Homo sapiens: one gene and its partner. The protein of the gene in region 1 purifies or fractionates together with the protein of each later gene. This does not show direct contact. Each region holds a gene or a part of one and is shown on either strand. Other genes may lie near its edges.

Region 1 (2,324 bases):
TCTGTGTGGTAGAAGTGATCTGCATAGCTTACGATGCTGAAGGGGTACTTGAGGTTGTTTTGAATGACACGCCGTCCAGTTCCATCAGGTAGTGTACACTCCAGTTTTTTGGTTCCTTTTAAAACAAAGGGGGAAAATGAGGTCCTTCAGCTGCTTTGCCAAAAATGATAGTGACATAGTGATAGTGACACAGTGATAGAATGGGGAAATAGGATATTTTACTTCCATTACAGTCATAGATTAGCAACTGTAAAATTACCTGTCCTATTACTAGTCTCCAGTTTTTAGTAGAGATTCAAACTTTCAATCCTTTTTTGGAAGACAGGATTGCATTTACTGAAATCTGGTAAGTTTCTGCCAAAGTAGGGCATTAAACATAATTATTTTTATAATTTGTGTGATTTCAAGCCTTAGCTTATAAATTATAACATCTGGGTAAATACTTGCCCTTTGTAAGCTATGTCTATAATTACTGAGGCAACCTTTTAACCAAAATCCTTAGTATTTTTAAAATATTTTCTAGGTAGGAGGAAAAAAGTGACTAAAATGGTAACATAACTCATATTTCAATGTAAAGGAATCAGTCTTAAAAATTTTTACAATAGCTAAACCATTCAAGAATTTCCAAGTTTCACATTTCTCATGGAGCCGATTTAAATTTCAAATCCTTTTAAGAAATGTAACTTGTTTTAAACAACTGGGTTATAAAAGTGACCTATGTACATTAGGCCCTTTTATTAGATTACAAATTCAAGAACAGTCTTTTTCATATTCTTTAGTATAGAACTAGACACACAGCATTTTTTCAGTTGTGCTGATAAAAGCAAACAAATGTAGGTTGCTAATACCCATGTTATTACTGAAGGAAGCTACCCTGCTACAATGCTTTCCAAAGAATGTCCTTAGCATTATAACAGATGTTTATAGGTAAGTTATAGTGACCCTCTCCCCGCATAAGAATAACTTCACTTAAGTTTGTCAATTCAACAATGGCTAATTCTTTTAACTGTTAAAAATATGCCAGGCACTCATGGTCAGGCAAGCAGTACAAACTTACTGCTTGATATATCCTTCCCTCCACCCAAACCCCAGAAAGTTCATTTTAAGACTCATTTACTAGTACTTAAATTTACTAGTACTTAAAAGTTTACAGACCAAAGAAAGGAGATCTAAGTGATGGGATTTCATTTTGTAGTAAAATCTGTTAGTGCTCACATTCACTGTGATGAGAGGTTATCTATTTGCATTCCATCAGTAGTATTACCTGCATCTGCCCAGCAGAGCAGTTTAGAGAAAGGGTCAAAGGTTAAGCCATTGGGCAATCCAATGTCTGTATTGATCAGAATTCTTCTGTTTTCTCCATCTAAAGATGACGTTTCAATTTTAGGAGCTTCTCTATTCCAGTCTGTCCAGTACAAGTTGCTGTAAGTTAAAAATCAAGATTGTAAAAGAATAGCCATGTAGCCTGTGGTAGGCAGCATCTAAGCAGCCCCCAGTGATCTCCATCTCCTCATGTATTATAGCCTTAAGCAATCCCCTTGAGTTTGGGCTGCATTAGTAGTGTCTTGCTTCTTCTAGTGCATAGAGTATAGCAGAAGTGATAGGCTATCACTGCCGATATTCGGTCTCAAAAAACTGGTTTCTGCCTTAGGGGCTCTCTCTTGCTCCCTTTGAGGGAAGCTGGATGCCATGTTGCAAGCTACCCTGTAAAGGGGAACATGTGCCAAGGAACTGATGTCCTTGAGGGCTGTTGGCCAGAGACATTAGTCTTGCCTGTAGCCCATGTGAGCATGCTTGGGCTGTGTCTTCCCCGAGCTGAGCCTTGTGATCACTGCAGTTTGGCCATTACCTGATTGCAGCCTTGTGAGAGACTCCATGCCTGAGGGAGCTCGGTGAAGACACACTTGGATTCCTGACTCACAGAAACTGTGAGACTAAATGTTATCTTACACTGCTGAGGGTTTGGGCAATTTCTTACACAGCAGTAGGTAACTAATACACAGCCATATTCCACTTTTACCTGTATCACAAGGTTTTCTGATTATTGTCACTATGTGGGAGAAGTCATTACTAAGTTACTATCAGAATCCCTGCCTCCAAGATACCCCTTGACTCAACTGCCCCAAAACCCTCCGTTTGTTGAAGTCTTGAATTGGATCTTGGGTTTTAGAATAGAAACAAATACAGCTGTTAGGAATGGCTTCGATACAAACTATGGAACTTGAAGAGATGTGGACCAGGGATTTGAGAAGGAAACTGTTCTTTCTTCTGCCAAAAATACAATTTGGTACTTGAAGGGGTACCTGGCACCCAGGGATGGAAAC
Region 2 (3,500 bases), on another chromosome or scaffold:
ATCACAAAGCTGTTTCCCTGAGAAATTTGTGTCTTCCTATCAATATGAAAAACAGCGTTCAAGTGTAAGCATATTGTTAGCAACACATTTCAACTGAAAAAATAATCTACCCAAAGCTGTCAGTTCCTACAAAAGGATAATTAATTTAATCTCAAAGATATCATGTAAGTATATATGAAATTCATTTATTACATTTAGTTGTTGAACATGAAGAATTTTATATTTGGACAAAATTTCACCCAAGGAGTCAATGTCAATATTCGGAAGCATTAAGCTTCCCTTACGTTGGAGCCCTTCATAGCTGTAACTCCAGGGTGCCAAGAAGCTGTTTCAGATAGATTTCTTTGCATTGCCTCTCCAAGTGATTTCAGTGCTCATGAAAACCATCATAGAAAAAGTAAAAGGCAATGATGAAAGTTCCTTAAAAAGAAGTTTTTCCTGCCTTCAGACAGGAGCTAAAGTCATTTCTAAAGGAACCCAGCATATTGACTGTGCATGATTCCTCACCACTTCAAAAAAAGAGAAAAATAGCAATACATACATGCTATAATACATCAAATCAAAAAGAGGAATGTGGGTTCTATGCATATTAATACTGATAAAATTCACTAGCCAATATTACAGTCTTCACACATCTTAAAAATGAGTGGTGATTAATTAATGATATTTCTGGAATTGTACATAATCAGACCTGTATTTGTTTTTGGACATCAAAATTCATAGTATTTAATGAGTCATAGATGATACTTATAGGAAGACCTAACTCTTAATCAATTATATCATTTGAGTAAATTTCCTAACAGTGTTTCTTAATTGTGTTCTGCTTTAGAATGCCTAAACATTCTGTAAACACTGCCTAATGCCATACAAGTGTCCACAATAAACAAGCAGCATTTCTCTAGGTTTCTGAAATTCATCCACAAGCAGTGGGTCCAAGTGTCCACGTCACTATTCCCTTGAAGACTCCATTTGAAGACTACATGCCTGGAGGAAGATAAAGTTAACAAGCAAGCAAATATTCCTGCTGCAGTCACTTCCCTGAGAATGAAACATTTTGCTTTTAAAAAGCAAATTAAGGTTTCAAGTACACATAATTCAGAAAGAGCTGGTGGGTCGAAACATAATTAACGGGAGCATTTGTGTTTCAAAAGTAATCTGAAAAGACTGATTCATATTCTATTCCATGCAAATATTCAGTTACGGAAATTAGGTGCATTCATAGGAATTTCATTGCACAACAAATCATTAAAAATTATACAAGAGAAAGGGAAAAAATATATAAATGCAATCAAGAAAAGATTAAGAGGTCTATGAAGTTCATGTAACAACTCCTTTGCACTAATAGACAGTTTGGAGAATCAAAACAAAATGATCATTCTTGGTCATGAGGGGAGGTGCTCCATATTTGTGTTAGAAAGGCTTCTGAAAAGTTAACTTCTCTGTTGGGATGTGACTCTATGTACAAAATGGTGCTTTTGCCAGAGCCTGACTTTCTCTTAGAGACATGGGAAAATATAGACTCAGTGATTGTGGTAGTTTAGGGAGAATTCAAATAGAGCATATTCATACTTTTAGCAAAACAATACATCTATCCACATAGAGTTGATAGGCCTGAAGCTGTTGTTAAAAAGGACAGCTTCTGCTTACTTAACTTTCACTGACTTCTAGCATAATAAATGCCCATTCCTATCACCTAAAAGAGTTACATGCAATGGCTGGGCACAGTGGCTCACGCCTCTAATCCCAGCACTTTGGGAGGCCGAGGCAGGCAGATCACCTGAGGTCAGGAGTTTGAGACCAGCCTGGCCAACATGGTGTAACCCCATCTCTACTAAAAACACAAAAATTAGCTGGGCATGGCAGCACATGCCTGTAATCCCAGTTACTCGGGAGGCTGAGGCAGGAGAATTGCTTGAACCTGGGTGGCGGAGGTTGCAGTAAGTTAAGATCTCGCCATTGCACTCAAGCCTGGGCAACAGAGTGAGACTCTGTCTTAAAAAAAAAAAAAAAAAAAAAGAGTTAGATGGAAACATTTTGCTCACTTTCTGGTCAATAAGGCCAACTATATACACTTTAAAACATCTTCAAGTAAACCATTTATCTTCCCTTACCACGGTACACCTTTTGAATACTATTCTTTCCTAAATTCTGTTTACTATATACTACCATTTGGGAAATAACTTGATTTCAAACTCTCACCCCACAATTAGAATTTGTGCCCCTCCAGGTCTGTGCTTCCTGCATGAAGAAGAAATGTGCCCCTTTCATACACTGAAAGATAAAAAGAATTATAAGTGCAGGTTCAAATTAACTTGGAACAGAAATAAAATTTTGCCTGGGTAAATCAATATCATAGCATTTTGATTTTATGAATTTCACATATGGATAGAATTAGTTTGAAAGCTGAAACTGAAATTTTCATTACTGTATTTGCATCTATTATCTTACATTACAGTGTATCTGTAATTGTTAATTTGGCTTAAAGAAAGATCCATTGACAATCTTCAAAAGCATTAGTGCATGATTAAAGGGAATTTGGATATAATTTAAGTATTAAATATGCTCATTTAAAAATAGTGTAGATTTTCATACTATACAGAAAGAAGGTTATGGTCTTTCAACCACTGTAAATACATTGAACTAAAATCGATTCAATCATACTAAAAAAATTCAGTGTAAATAAAGATGACAGAACTCCATGAAAAGTAAATAAAAAGTATAATTTCAACTTTCAGATTACTAATTATGTAGAATAAATTGCTCTTTAGGTAGCTAGAAGTGTAGACAGATTTCGCAATAAGGGTATTTCTTGACATTACACCAGAGTTTTAAGAAGCTGATTGAAGAGAAGGAGTTTAAGCCCAGTGAGAATCTAGCAGATTTTCATCATAATTCTCCCGGCATAAAGGATGATACACAGTTTGGCATTCTGATTTCACTTCCACTGAGCTGCCTCAATGAGTAAAAAAGGGATTTAACTTATTTTCATTTCAAAATCCTAAACAATTCATAAACAATTTAGGTAATTGTAATAAGGAGGGATTTAGGATGAGGAATATTGCATCTTTTTCATAGATTCTATAAACTCTTCAAAGTGCTCTAAAAATACTATAAGTTTGATTAGCAGCAAAGCATTAGTCTAATCAAAACCTCTCTCCTTCCGCCCTCATATATAAACATATACACACACTGTACAGCAATATATTCTATTAGTCTAAGTTAAATCTGACAGTTTGACAGTTACCCCCAGAGGCTGTGCAAGGTTACAAATACTGTCTACACTGTATCACAGTTCAAGACCACTAGCACCCAAGTGGTTAAGCGAGAACCAACCCATCCATTAAAAAAAAAAAAATTTAATCACGTATTTTGAATTTCTTTAAATGTAAAAATGGAGGATACAGTGAATCACCCAATATATTATTCTGAGTCCTGTAACTGTCTTTATCTAAAATATTTTTTACATATGGAAGGCTAGATGTCTTTAAATATACTTTTAG

The links. Proteins that work in one complex are often made in the same cells at the same time.
Region 2: the proteins of RTRAF (region 1) and NEK10 purify together in Homo sapiens (co-immunoprecipitation; one large-scale study listed by IntAct). This does not show direct contact.

Annotation. Positions count from the first base shown.
Region 1 is NC_000014.9:52,006,546-52,008,869, forward strand, and holds part of RTRAF (RNA transcription, translation and transport factor protein), read left to right. Parts: coding exon of another isoform or gene 1-115; 3' UTR 116-1,264; coding exon of another isoform or gene 1,265-1,422; 3' UTR 1,423-2,324. Other genes in the region: NID2 (nidogen-2), read right to left, coding at 1-115, 1,265-1,422. UniProt on the Homo sapiens protein: RNA-binding protein involved in modulation of mRNA transcription by Polymerase II. Component of the tRNA-splicing ligase complex and is required for tRNA ligation.
Region 2 is NC_000003.12:27,107,384-27,110,883, forward strand, and holds part of NEK10 (serine/threonine-protein kinase Nek10), read right to left. Parts: 3' UTR 2,272-3,500; coding exon of another isoform or gene 2,265-2,271; 3' UTR 1-2,264. UniProt on the Homo sapiens protein: Plays a role in the cellular response to UV irradiation. Mediates G2/M cell cycle arrest, MEK autoactivation and ERK1/2-signaling pathway activation in response to UV irradiation.